Regions from separate parts of the Homo sapiens genome. Here region 2 is reported to be linked to region 1. The links are microRNA targets in miRTarBase. Many come from high-throughput screens and were not tested one by one. Region 1 holds a microRNA gene; the other region holds the end of a gene's coding sequence.
Evidence for each region. The annotated mature microRNA hsa-miR-203b-3p reads UUGAACUGUUAAGAACCACUGGA and lies in region 1 at 2,830-2,852, shown strand. An mRNA with a match to its seed (bases 2 to 7 or 8) in the 3' UTR can be bound and repressed. Matches are read on the target gene's strand: a 7mer-m8 pairs with bases 2 to 8, a 7mer-A1 pairs with bases 2 to 7 and ends in A, and an 8mer does both.

Region 2: the mRNA of KLHL7 is a reported target of hsa-miR-203b-3p. Seed matches in the 3' UTR shown: 8mer at 4,199-4,206, 7mer-A1 at 3,461-3,467 and 7mer-A1 at 3,353-3,359.

The regions. Positions count from the first base shown.
Region 1 is chr14:104,112,937-104,120,279 of GRCh38, reverse strand. It overlaps MIR203B (microRNA 203b), which reads left to right and starts at 2,777; the gene lies at 2,777-2,862. It overlaps ASPG (asparaginase), which reads right to left. Exons shown (of 16, transcript NM_001080464.3): 16 at 4,698-7,343. MIR203A (microRNA 203a) reads right to left here and starts at 2,875; the gene lies at 2,766-2,875.
Region 2 is chr7:23,172,616-23,179,958 of GRCh38, reverse strand. It overlaps KLHL7 (kelch like family member 7), which reads right to left. Exons shown (of 11, transcript NM_001031710.3): 10 at 6,914-7,011; 11 at 2,045-5,944. The coding sequence ends at 5,661. Among named protein-coding and RNA genes, the nearest start is that of NUP42, 5.8 kb to the left of the region's middle.

The DNA.
Region 1 (7,343 bases):
GCGTGTACATGAGCTGGTCCCACGTAGGGTGATCAGCAGTCCCAGTTTGCCCCAGACTCAGAAGATTCCAAGAACGTTTCGGTGCCAAATCAGGAAACACGCAGGCACACCTGGACAGGTGGGTCGGCCTCATGCAGGGATGCTTTGCCCTGCCCCGGCGTGGCCCTCCAGCAGCACAGTCGGCACGTCTCAGCACCACAGTGCCCCAGTTCCACCCAGAAGTTGCATCTGCCTCTGTTCACACTCCCCTGTGTAGAGGTGGCATGTGTCTCCACCAGCAGCCCAGGAGCCCCACGTGCCCAGCTTCCCTTCAGGAATTCCATGGCTGAAGGAATGGACCCCGAGGAGCCATCCTCCACCTGGGTCAGGGGCAGAGGCTGGAGAGGCCGGAGTGGAGGGGCTGGGGTGCCAGGAAGCACAGGTCTAGTCTCAGCAAAGTAGGGGCCTGTCCTCCTGGTGTCCCCAGGGACCAAGTAGGGGCCTGTTGTAAGACCACACCTCATTGCCACCTGAGGCCTTCCATTGGTCCTCCGAGGCCCTGGCTGAAATTCGGCCTCTTCAAGGATCCCCCACTGGCCCTCCCACCACATCAGCTCCAGTGACAGCTTGAGCTCTGCCCTGCTGAGCACTCAGGAAGTGTGCTGCATCATGTCAGGGGAACCTCCAGCGAGCTCCACGTCATCCTACAGAAGGAAGAAACAGGTCCTCCGAGGGGATAAGGGACTTGCCAAGGTCACTTGCTTGTAGGCATAGAGCTGGGGTTTGAATGCACGACAGACTCTCGGTCCCCTGTGCCAGAGGCAGGGAGGGTGGAGGAAGGTGCCTCTGTCTCTTCAATCCCTCAACCCTCCCACCTTGCCCATTCTCCTGGCCAGGTCCCCAGGGCCAGCCTACAGGCTCCAGCGGGAATGAGTGGGAGCCAGCCAAGGGAGCAGTGTTGTGGTGAGTGGGGGGAGTGGGAGCAGGCTGGAGCCCCTGAAAGTGGGGCCCCTGGGAGCCAAGCCCTTTCCCCAGCCTGGCTCCTTGAGGCAGTGCAGCTCAAACCCGAGGGAGGGGGTCTGGCCCAGTGGCCCAGGGGAGGTCACTGCAACGAGAAAGCTGGTGGCAGAGGCTGGGGGCTTCCCTGGAGACCAAAGTGCCAGAGGCAGAGTTGAGGGAGGGTCTTGGGTAAGGACCAGGCCACTGCCCCTCCACCAACCATCCTCATTTCTGCTTCTCTGAGATTAGAAGGAAAAGGCTGGCTTGCTTTCAAGGGAGAAACCACGCTGAGGCCTGGGGGAAAAGGACAAGCACCCCAGGGACACAGCGATGCTTTGGAACATGTTTATTGTCATCAGTCTAAATTGTACAGACGCACACCGGACAGAATGCCTCCAAGCCGCAGAACAGGGACACAGCCGCCATCTCCCACCTGAGCCTCAGCCCCTCTCACGGGGCTGCTGAGGGCTGAGGGCCCATGCAGAGGGCACGGGGGAACGTGCTTGTAAAATGAAATGGCTACAGGGGGCTGCGGTGGTCAGCAGGCAGCAGCTGGGGAAGACACTCCAACCCCTCCGATGCCACAGACCCACTGGGCGCTCCCACGGCCCCAAGCTCTGAAGCCAGATCCTGAGAGGTGGCCACAATGGCATTTGCTGAGCAACAGAGGAGGCACTGGCCAGTGGTGGATGCTCTCCCGGGAACTCCACTCCCCCCACCTGGGTGGCCAGGGGACCTTGCTGTCCTGCTGCTGGCCCTCTTCTGGAACAGCCCTCCACAGTCACCTCCTGTCTCCTCACATCAACCCCCTATGTGTGCAGGTCGGGCTCAGAGAGGGCAGGTGACTGGCCCAAGGCCACCCTAGCAGGCCTCAAACCCAGGCCTGTCTGACCCATCTCCCAGGACTCCCCGCAGCTCTCTAAACACTGGGTGAGGAGGTGGGGACTGGAGGGGGACCCTCCACCCCAGAGGACACAGCAGGCCAGGCAGCACCAGGCAGAAGACCCCGGCCCCTGGCTGGAGGTGGGGACAGATTCGACCCTTTGCTGAGTCCCTCCCAGGGCCGCCCGGGGCTTCACACGCAGATTGACGCGCACACCTCTCCTGTGGGCGCTAGCTACCACGAGGTTCCAGGGAGGCTCCGGCGAAGGCACCTGTCATCATGGGCGCCGCTTCTCCTCTACCTGGGTGTAGTCTGCAAACTTCCTCCCCACCCCCAGTTCCTGTGCCTCGAGGTCCTTCACGAGTTTAGCGCGCACTCGTAGGAGCCGCGCAGCGCTCCCTAAGGCCTCAGTGAGTGGAGACGCTCCGGGGAGCCGGCAGCGGGAACCATCGGCCGCCCAGCAGGGTGCGGCTGCCGGCAGCCTGATGGGCAGCTCCCAGGAAGCCCAGGGCAAGGAGCGCTCCTCAACCCTACGGGCCCACCGCCAGTTCCTCGCTGGGAATTCCACGGAGTTTCGAGGTGCGGGCCCTCGGGGTGCAAGAGGGCGGCGGCGGCGTCTCCAGGCCGGCAGCGCGCCAGGAGCGTGGGCAACCCAGCGCGCCCCCACCCAGCGGTTCCCACAGCACAGCCCGGCCACGCCCGGCCACCTCCCAGCAGCACTTGGCTCTCCGGCCGAGGGTCTTCCCTGGCAGCAGGTGGAGCCAGCCAGGCCCTGGGGACTGCGGGGCGCGGCGCATGGGGCGGCCGACCTGGAGCGCGGAGCCGGTCCGTGGGCTCCCCTGGATTGGTCGCCGGCGCACCCCTGACTGTGACTCTGACTCCAGGCCGCGCGTGGGACGCTCCGTCGCTGTCGCCGCGCCCGCCGGGTCTAGTGGTCCTAAACATTTCACAATTGCGCTACAGAACTGTTGAACTGTTAAGAACCACTGGACCCAGCGCGCGAGTCCCCAACACCGTCGGTTCGCCGAGCTGCGGAGAGAGGAGCCCCCGACGCCCTTGGGACCGCCCGCGTCGCCTGCGGATCCCGGGGACCGGCCCCTGCGCCCAGATCCCCGCTGGTCGCGCACCCCCTGCCCTGCTGCAGCCACCCGGCCCCGACGCCGTACCGGACGCCTTAGACGCCCTCGCCTGGCGCTGGGGGATCCCAGCCGCCAAGCCCAGCCCCGCCGCGTCCTCGCTGGCCCCGGCGTCCCCTCGTCCCGCGGGCCCCGCGTGGCAGGGCGGCTGAGCTCCGAGCGGCGGTGGCCAGCGCGGCGGCGCCTTTTATGCGGCGCAGCCGCCCTTCCCGGCGCCGGAATGTGCCCGCGCCGCGCTGGCCCGACCGGTTTTTCCGGGCGGGGCGGCTCCCGGGCCCATAGGTCCCGCGACTGATCCTCCACGGCCCGGGGACCTGCTCCGCGCGCCCGCGCGGGGGTGGCCCTGACTCAGCGGCCGCCCCGCCCCATCCGGCGCCCCAGCCTCCAGCGCCTGGCCTGGGCGCACCTGGCCTCCCGGGTTCTGGGTCCCCGCCGGGCCACGCCCGAACCGTCTCGTCTGGGCCGGGGGTGCTCGGGCGCACGGAGGGCCCGGGGCTCCACCTTGGCCGGGTCGAGGCCCAGGGTGGCCGGAACAGGTGAGGACCAGCGCCCGACAGGAGCCCAGGGCCGCGCTAGCTCTCCGGTGGGTGTGGGGGCTGGGCTGGACACACCCACCCCAGCCCCTCTCACTTCAAAGGGAACTTCGTGGGAGGGGGAAGGGGAGGGGTAAAGAGAAAGTGAAACTGGAGGGAGGGAGGTTTCTGCTTCTCAGACCCTGAACCCCCACCCCGCAGCCCACAGGGGTAGCCCCGTACCTGCCTCCTCATTTCCCACGCGGGGGGAGGGACGCCCTACCCCCTCACGCAGCAAGGGCCTGAGCCTCGCTCCCCCCACTCACAGCCCAGCCCCGAACGTCCTGGCGCAGCTGGCCCTGCCGGTCCTACCCACTTAGTCACCTGGAGGTGTCCAGGCCTGACCAGTGGCGCCTCCCAGGGACTCTGCTTCAGCAGAACATGGCAGCTGAGGGGAGGGCTCAGGCTCTAGGAAATACCCTAGAGCCCCCTTCAGCACTTGCCCCAAGTCTGGAGCCATTAGTGTGTCTGTATGGGGTTGGGCAGCAGGGTGGTGACCATTCATTCCAGTGCAGGGCGGTGACACGCCATCCCACCACCCGCCCAGCCAGCCAGGAGCCAAGTGCTCAGGAGCCAAGGTGAGCCCCAGACCAGAACACAGCCACCAGATCTGAGGGACCCCCCAGACATTTCCACATGGGCCGCGTGTGGCTCAACCACCGCAGCCACCCTGGAAAGGGAATCAGAAAGGTTTTGTTATTTTCATTTTGCAGTTGGGGAAACTGAGGCTCAGGGAGGGACAGTGACTTCTGGGGATTGCACAGCTCTTGGTGGTAGAGAAGGGATGACAGGCCTTGCCATCGCTGCATCTGTGGGTCTCAGTGCCTGGGTGTGGAGTCCGAGGGGCTGCGGCATGGGGGTGGGGATGGAAGTGGGCATAGGGGAGCTTGAGATCAAGAACAGGAGCTTGGGAGCTCCTCCCCCAACACAACTGCATGGGCAAGAAGAACCCACCTCTCTTCTTTTCTTTTTTTTTTTCTTTTTTTTTGAGACCTAGTCTTGCTGTGTTGCCCAGGCTGGAGTGCAGTGGTGCGATCTTGGCTCGCTGCAACCTCCATCTTCCCAGTTCAAGCGATTCTCCCACCTCAGCCTCCCAAGTAGCTGGGACCACAGACACAAACCACCACACCTGGCTAATGTTTTTATTTATTTTTTAAGAGACAGAGTTTCGCCATGTTGGCTGTTCTCAAACTCCTAGGCTCAAGCTATCCACCCGCCTCGGCCTCCCAAAGTGCTGGGATTGCAGGTGTGAGCCACCAAGCCTGGCCACCACTCCTTAATTCTAAGTTCTGGTCTAGCCCAGTCCTGGGCAGACTCTTCCCGACGCACAGCCACTTGGATGGGCTCCCCTCGCCCAGGTGGCTCCCGTGTCCAGCATCCAAGGGAACTGACGAGAGAGGACGGGGAGAAGGTGACAAGTACAAGCACCTGCAGTTCCCACCAGCAGCAGGAAATATTGAGGTGTGACCAGAAGGGGAACTTCCTAGCATACACGAGAAATCTGGTTACCTCCAGCTGGGGAAGGGCGGTCCTGGAGGGCCCTCAGCTGAGGAGTCTGATTTTAGGATAGAAAATGCTGGTGAAAAAGACAGTAGTCGTGATGGAGAGGAGATGTTCCCCAGAGATAGCCCTGGGATCCAGGTGATTCGAGATGGGCTATAGGAACCAAGGCCTCCCCCAGCGTGAAATTACCAGGTGTGAGCGGCGCCACCCCACTGTGGGGAGGCGGGTCCCACGGGCACTGGGCACCTGGCTGTGCCTCATTCCTGAGTCTCCCACAGCCTCACACCACAGCAAGAGACAAGGCGGCCCTGATTCACAGCCCAGCTCTGCCCTGTGCCAACGCAGAGCCCTGGGCGCAGGACGGGGCCACTCTGTGCCTTAGCTTCCTCAGCCATGAAGTAGGATAGACGGGGACCCGGTGCCCTCCTACAGGCACAGTGGGGACGAAACACACCAACGCGGCGCAGGACACGAACGCTCCAAGCCTGTCTGTCCCGGCTGTTCCCACTGCACGCCAGAGAGCCAGAGGCCTTGGGGCCAGGTCACTGCCCAGCTCAGAGCCCAGGGAGCCCCGAGCAGTGGCCCTGCACCTCCTGCCACTTCTGGGTGATTCTAGAGGAGTCCCCTTACCCAGGGCCCCTCTGGCCTCTCCCCAAGGGGCACAAAACGGCCCCCGAGAAAGCTCCCAGACTCAAGCCTATGACTCTTCACAGCCTCCTGAGACACTGGCCCAGTCCCGGGGCTCCCTGTGGTAGGGCCCTACATCCCACGAGGGTTTGGAGGGGACTGACAATGGGGGTCTGGCTGCCCAGCCTTGTGAGGAGCTCTCCCCATCTGCCCAGCCCGTGGCCCCCAAGCCGTCTCTGCCGAACTCCATCAGTGACCCAGTTGGAGAAAGGCCAGCTTGACAAATGCTCTCTGCGGGACAAGCAGGATGAGTGGGCGTTTCTACACTACAGGACACTCACCCCCGGCATCAGTCGGTGTGTCTACACTGGCAGGTTGGCACCTGCTCTGGGAGGGTGCTGCCATGTGGGCTAACGTGAGCCACCTGCAGCTTTCACAACCCGGAGCAGCACTGAGTGGGGTGGCGTGAGCAACAGGCTCTGCCCAGCCCCTCAGGAGCTGAGGGAAGCAGGTGGGCACTGCCGTGTGCAGGAGCAACCGGGGAGACCAGGTGGGCTCAGCCCAGGGATGCCGGAGGTAGTCCCACCCCTTCTCACCTGCACCAGGCATTTGTCCAGATGCCCCACCGCCTCTCCCAAGGCCCTCCAAGGGTCTCGGCCATCCGGGGACAGCAGGGGCTCCTGGCTCTGGGGCCCGGTGCCACCCTCCCTCCACCTGCAGCCCCTCATGGGCCTCACCAGGGTGAGGAGCAAAGGCTTCCCCGGCCCTGCCACGCTCGCATGGCGTCACCTTGTTGTGCAAGGCCCAGGCACACCTGTGTCGGGGTGAGGACAGCAAGGATGCCAGCGGCAGTACCAGCCAGGCTTGGGAACCAGGCTGAGGAGCCTGGGGTATGCCCAGGTGCCAAGGGCCAGCTCTGGGGTCATGCTTTTGCCCTCCTGGGGCTCCAGTCCAGAGGCCAGCCAAACAGAGGGACAAAAGGAACCGTCACCTGGGCAGGTAGAGAGGCCTGGAGGGAGGCAGCCCCCATGCTCCTCACACCCAGCAAGAAGGGGTCAGGGGCTGGGGGCAGCAGCAGGGAGTCCCTGGCCATCCCAGGCCAGTGCATGCACACATGATGGGGGCCAGGGGTCCACACCCCCGATTTCAGCCCCAGCTGAAAGAAGGCACGAGGCTGCCCTTGGCCTTGGAGCACCACCCCCACCGGGCAGCAGCAGGGCCCGCCCCACCCGCCCACCTGCCCAGGCTGTGCAACCAGGCAGGCACAGCTCACCTCTTCCCTTACAGGGTGGCCTGGCTCACGGTGGAGGCTGCATCAGGAGCTTCAGGCAGAGCAGGGGCTGGAATGGTCCCCAGGGGCTCACCACCAGAGTGTGAAGCCCCCTTGACACTCACAGGCTTCCGCAGCCCTATGGAGCCCTGGTGTGGCCCTGGCCTGAGAGGGGGGCCGGGTGCAGCGATACTGGGGTGACAGAAAACCAGACAGCAACTGGGACGGGACTGTGAGGACTAAAGAGTTAAGCAGGGGCAGCATGCTCATCCAGGGGTTGGAGGGCTGCCTGGGGGAGGGGACTTCAAGCTCCAGAATGAAGGCGCAGGAGGTAAGGAGATGGGCAGAGGGTGTCTGGAGGAGGGACCAGCCTG
Region 2 (7,343 bases), not on the chromosome of region 1:
TTGTTCATCCAACTTTTAGCTCATTCACTTATTTATTTATATCAGTATGGACTCATGATTTCCAATGTTATTCAATGGGTTATAATCCATTACTATCATTATTTATTTTGATGCTCAGATCATCTCCAATTTGGCCAATGGGACCCCCTTTAAGCTCCTTTACACATTCGAAAAAGGAGAAAAAAAAATTCCCCATGATTACTTGAGCACTTTTTTACTTTCTGGTGCAGAGATGTTCCAGGCTCATTTTTACATTCTCTACTCCAGTCCTGAAATCAGTTATTTCTCCAGGGGTCCTTTTGGTGCTGCTTAGAAACCAAGATCTGAGCTTTAATGTGCTTATTGCTACTGGGATGTCTTTGCTGTCATGAACATTGCTGGGAAATACATATGTATAAACAAACACGAACATTTACATCAAACATTTCTATATTTTATATATTAAAACTATTATGCCTTCTATGTCAAAGACTATGAAAAAAAGAAAAAAACTTGAGTTCACACTGATAATCTCCAATTTCAATCCAAAATCACATGATTCATTTTATTTTCCTCTATTTTTAACTCCATTGATAACAAGAAACTTGGCTTTCATTAACCTTAGTATATTTATTTTATTACCACCTTGTGTTAACCAGTATTGCTTTGTAGCCACTGACTTCTCATTCCTGCACATGTCAGCATGTGTAAGGACTTTGCTGGGATCAAATACCTAAAATAATACCAGTGGTGACTGAAACTTAAGTGAGGGTAAGCCCAGTGCTTGGTGAAGGTAGAGAGGGGCAAGGCCAGAATGCCGGTTGAGACTGTCTAGGTGGAGTGTGTGTGAGACAATGAGAGCCTAGGGCTTGCAGGACTTGGTAGTGATCGGTTTGGTGATGGGTATATATAGGTGGAAATCAGGAGAGTGGGGTTACAGGAAGGAAACTTCTGATTTCTTCAAGATGGCAGAGGAAAAATACTGCTGCCTCCCCTTCCAATTGGATGAGGCAACTGTCTCGACTTGATAGGAGATAGGATTCCTCCCCAATAAAAAGGAATGAGAGACACTTCAGATTCTAGGACATCAGGTACAGAGAGGGCTTATGCTTATTGAATGGTGAGTCAAACATCCCAGAAAAATACCTATGGATCTCTTATGGACTAGCAACAAAAATAGTTGGCCATCTCCTCATCATATAATGAAGTTCATTGATTAAGCTCACCCTTGTACCCCTGAATTATCAATTTTCAGATGTCTCATTTAAATCCAAATGCACAGTCAGGGACTAGACATTTGAAGGCAGATGCCAACAGGAAAGAGCAAAGCAAAGAAACAGAAAAAGAAGTTAGAGGAAACAAAAACACTAAAATATTTTTAAAATTTAAAGAAACTAAAATATCATCAGAGAGGATAACATGAAACAAGAATGGCATACTATATAAAAGAACAATTATAGAAATAAAGTACTCTTGGAAAACGTAGATAGTGGGAACAAATTAAAGAAGGTTAGAAGATAAAGTCTGAGGGAATTTCTATAAGATTCAAACTAGATCTTGAACCCCATTTTAAATCTGTTATGAGAGAGGGCGTAAAGCTCTGGAGAGTAAAAAGATTTCTAGTTAATAAGGGCAACATTTCAAACAATTTCCCAGCACAGACTTTTTTAAATAAAATTTTTATTTTTTCTAAAGTAGTGTGAATCATCTTGGGAAGGAGGAAGGTGAGAAAGATAAAAGTGGATTCAAGCTTTTTGAAGTCTTTTGAGGCAACTGTAAAGAGGGAGGAGGCTATTTAAAGGAAGGATTTATCAAACGCTGAATGATGCCACCTGTAAAATGTCCTTTCATTAAAAGAACAGATTATTTGGACTTAAGGGTCCAAATAATGACTCTCAGTGAGAGCTGGTTTGGTGCCATGTGGGAGTAAATTGGATTTTCTCAAGTCTTTGGTATAACCTTAGAAAGCAAAATTTCGTCTAAATACCTCCTTTACCCATGCATATGTAGCAAATCCAAAATTTTTGCTGTTAACAGTATATATGGCAAAAGGAATATAGACTGCTTGGTGGAATAATTGTTTATTAAACGGCTGATTTTGATTTTGTTAGCAATATTGTCATGTCAAAATAATTCATGACTTAAAATTTTCATGGGATGATATGTCAAGTTTTTGCCAGCTGGACCACAAAGTCACAAGTATATGTTTTGTTTTGTTTTTTTCAAATAGCAACAATTTTTTTAAGATGCTAAACTTTTCTGACCGAATTGTGATTTTTGAAAGCATAAACTTACTTTGTCATCAAAATAATATCATTGCAAAGGATATAACATTAACTTATCAAATGTCTACTAAAAAGCAAGCAGAGCACTTTACAGGACAGGGAGTTTTGGGCAACAAAATAGAAAATGTGCTTGTCAGTATGGTGAGTGTACTTTTACGCACTATCCTGATATTGACAATTCTGTAGAAATTTCCAAGGCAGAAAAAGACACTAATTGGGAATTATGATACAGATTACTAAGGAAAAAAACCACTTCATTATAATCCACATCAAACCTGTGTATGTATTTACTATAGTGTGTTCTAGTCAATTGACATAGCCTAAAAGGAAATGCTGGTGTACTTAAAATATCTTAGACAGGTACTGTATATTCTACATAGGAGATTGTCAAATTATATAGCTATATTGTAATATAATAAATGGATATTTCACTCTCAAAAAATTAAACTAGCCACATTTTTCAATAGAGTGCAAAATTGAAAACCCTACTAAAAATGTTCAGAATAATCAAATCTAGAGACAGAAAGTAGATTAGTGGTTGCCTAGGGCTATGGTGTTTGGGAGGTTTTCTGTGTTGAACAGCATCTCCCCAAATTCATGTCTATCCAGAAGCTCAGAATGTGTCCTCGTTTGGAAATGGGGTCTTTACAGGTGTAATTAAAATAAGGTCATACTGGATTGCGGGCCCTATGTTGTCCTTTTTTTGTTTGTATTTTGCTTTGAGAAGGTGTCTTGCTCTGTCACCCAGGCTGGAATGAAGTGGCGCAATCTCAGCTCACTGCAACCTCTGCCTCCCAGGTTCAAGCAATTCTCCTACCTCAGCCTCCTGAGTAGCTGGGACTACAGGTGCACACCACCATACCTGGCTAATTTTTGTATTTTTAGTAGAGACGGGGTTTTGGCATGTTGTCCAGGCTGGTCTCAAACTCCTGACCTCAGGTAATCCACCCGCCTCGGCCTCCCAAAGTGCTGGGATTAAGGGCGTGAGACACAGCGCCCAGCTTTTTTTTTTTTTTTTTTAATGAGACAGGGTCTCAGTCTGTCACCCAGGCTGGAGTGCAGTGGCACAATCATAGCTCACTACATCCTTGAACTCCTGGGCTCAAGTGATCCTCCCACCTCAGCCTTCTGAGTAGCTAGAACTGCAGGTATATACCACACCTGCTAACTTTTTATTTTTTTGTAGAGACAGGGTCTTGAACTCCTAGCCTCAAGTGATCCTACTGCCTCCACCTCCCAAAGTGTTGAAATTACCGGCCTGAGCCACTGTGTCTGGCTCCTATGTTGTCCTTATAAGAACACCATGTGAAGATACAGAGACACACAGGGAAAAAGCCCATGCGAAGACAGAGACAGAGACTGAAGTGCTGCAGCTACAAGCCAAAGAATGCTGAGGATTGCTGGCAACCACCAGAAGCTAGGGGAGAGGCATGTGTGGTTTCTGCTGCAGACCCTCCAGAAGGAACTAACCCTGCTGACAACTTGATTTAGGAGTGCTGGCTTCCTGAATTGTGAGAGAATAAATTTCTGTTCTTTAAAGCCACCAAGTTTGCAGTAGTTTGTTATGGTAGCCCTAGGAAATACAGGGGCGTTGGGGGAAATAGGGAACCATTGCTAATCAGTACAAGGTTTCTTTTTGGGGTGATGAAAATGTTCTAAAATTGTGGTGATGGTTGCGTAACTCTGTGGATATATTAAAAACCACTGAATAATACATTTTTTTTTTTTTTTTTTTTTTTTTAGTCTTGCTCTGTTGCCCAGGCTGGGGTGCAGTGGCTTGATCTCAGCTCACTGCAACCTCTGCCTGTCAGGTTCAAGCAATCCTCCTGCCTCAGTCTCCTGAATAGCTGGGATTACAAGTGCACACCACCAGGCCTGGCTAATTTTTGTATTTTTAGTAGAGACGGGGTCTCATCATGTTGGCCAGGGTGGTCTTGAACTGCTGACCTCAAATGATCTACCCACCTTGGCCTCCCAAAGTGCTGGGATTACAGGCGTGAGCCACTGTGCCTGGCCTGAATAGTATACTTTAAATGGTGAATTGTATGGTATGTGAATTATATCTCAATAAAGCTGTACATTAAAAAACCCTACACAAATAGAAATATACCTATCATTATGTTTTTCCTAATTCCTTTTTGATTTAAACATTTTTAGGGTTTAAGACTATTATAACCTCTATATAAAGAAAACTGAAAATTAAGAGACACTGGTTCACAAATTCTAAAAACAACCATTACCTAAAATACTTGAAGAACAAACTGAGTGGCCTATTTTAAGTTAAAAAATATTTAATATTATCAGATAAAAACATTGATTGTGACAGCTTTACATGTTTCATTCCATACACAGTGAAAAAGGCAAAGTATTACTAGGAAGGAAATGAGTAGTTGGGTTTGTAAAAGATTTATTGATCACATAAAAGCAATGAATAGGAGATGACATATATCTAACTCATGATTACAAAACTTTTAGAGACAACTAGGTTAAATATTTCATGTTTTGGCTAAGGGAAAAGAATTCATGATCTCGTTAAAGAAGTTCAAAGTCAACACTGATATTGTACAACTACCAGTGCTTTTCTAATGATCTAGAAATTTGCTATAAATAGCTTTACTTTTTGCTAGTTAATCACTTACTATGATTGGGTTTTATTTAACAGTGAGGACTAAAGAGGCAGAATCCTTTTTTAACCACTGGATAAAACAGAGACATAAATTAATGATGGGTGCTAAGCTTTACATTTTATGTTAAAAAGATGGAATATATTTAAGTGGATTGAATATATTTCATGAGGAGTTGGACATATTAAACCCCCAAATCTGTTTAGGAAGTTTTGTGAGAAAGTGTGTATATGCCTTGACTCACTCTGGCTTACTTTTAAAATGGAATACATTTGGCACTAAATAAAATAAATAGACAAGCAAACTGTGAGACTAAGCTGCTCCATCTGAGTTGCCCATCTTGACTTACAATTCATACTATTTCTTAGTTCTTGACTGAGCACAAACAGACCTAACCGTATAGCACTTCTGTGATGCATGAAAATAGAATCTAGAGCTAAGATACTGCGCTTCACTGATGAGCCAATCTTCTATTCTGCCAAAATCATAGTTACAAATGTGAAATTCATTCAAGAAATTCACATTTTTAACAAATGCTTATACTTTTTCAAGTTTTCTTGCTAGATATGTTCTTGGTTTTGTGGCCAGCTAAAATATGATCTTTGAATTAAGGAAATCCATATAAAAGAAACATCTATTTTATAGGAACCTCATTTCACTTGAAACTTTCTTTACCAAAACACCAAACCAAAACTTTGTCACCAAACTCCTGGAACAAAGCACTGGTGGCTATATTTTAGAGTCTCTGATGAGTCTGAAGTCCACTCATTTTTCATGTTTCAAGGGTCTCTTCATTTGCTCCACAAGTATCGACAACACAAATTAAACAACTTGTGACTGGAAAAGCACGAACTTTGGAGTTGGCAACCCATTTGTCTGTTTCGGTATTATATTCGAGAATGTGTCCTAATCGACCAACACCCTGAAAACCAGCCAAGACATAAACTATAGAGCCAACTGCTGCACATTTCACTGTTACACCCTTCCATGGCATTGGTGAGACCATCTTCCATTCGTTCAACTTAATATCGTAATATTCCACATTGTCCAGACCACCTTCAAAAGAATAAAACATGAACAACATGAAAAACTATATCAACAATTCTAAGGTTTCTTAAAGTAATAACTTTTTGTATTTTTCCAATATTTTATTGTGAAAAATGTCAAACACACAGAAAAACTGTAATAATTTTACAGTGAATGTCCACATAGCCACCACCTAAATTCTTACTCTTAACACAATAGACATTTAATATTTCTTTTTAAATATTGATTTTTTTCTACAAAATTAAACATGTTTTATCTATTCTGGAAAAATGCAAAATAAACCAATCGGTGATTTCCCCTCTGATTAACTTTGATTATAATTACTCAAATGTCCTTCTTTTTCCTCCTTTTAGCACTTTATGGAAAATAGCAATGGACAGGGACAGAAGAAGGAAAAGAAGTTACTGGTACACTTAAGTGATGCTTAAAGTACTGACTAAATTGAAGCTTGTGTCTAGATTCAGTTCCGACTCCCTTTCATTTAAGACAATTATTTAAGATTCTTTAGTACATTATTTATGAAAACAAAATGCCAAATTTAGTCATTTAAAAATTACAATATTGATATTTTCATGCAATGTTTAAAAATATTTAGGAAACTTTACCATTTAGGACCTGGATACAAGCCTTAAAACTTGTATTTAAAAAGTTTTTAAAGGTTTTTTAAAGTTCAAATATTTCTATTGCTCAATAGTTCTTAAGCTGGTGCGACATCATTCCCCAGGAGGTATCTGGGAATGTATAGGAGCCATCTAAAATTGTCACAATGACTGGTGACTACTGCGACATTTCATAAACAGGAATGTTTAACATCCTGCGATATTTTATCAAGTATGTTAATTCCCAGAAACTATAAAAATAGATATAATAATATACATGGTAAATGCTTCTATCTAGATTTTTAAAAATGCTTCAATAATTTAAGGAAGTATCAGCAAACTCATCAGGAAAGTGGAACAGTGAATTAACATCACATACCTAAACCATTCTGACCACCCACAGCAAATATCTTGTCTTTTACAAATACCAGCCCATGATTCTTCCTGGCTTCAATCATTGGACACAGCTCAGTCCATCTGAAAAAATTAAAGTTTTTAGTGTGCTTGTTTACAGGAAGTAAAAGAACTCATACTAATGAGAAAGGTCTATTATTCTAATTAAGTGCTCATTTACTACTCACATATGTGTACATATACGCACAAAATGTCTAGAAGGGTAGAAAACAAAAGTTGAACAATGATTATGGGTAATTTATTAATACACGGGGAAAACATGGATTTTATTCCTTTCAATTCTGATAGGATATAAGAAAATGAGGATATCTATTAAAAAACACGTTTTTAGAGGAAATCCATTTCCTGAGGTTCATAAAAACTTGTAATATGGGAACAAAAAAGAAGAGGAAGAT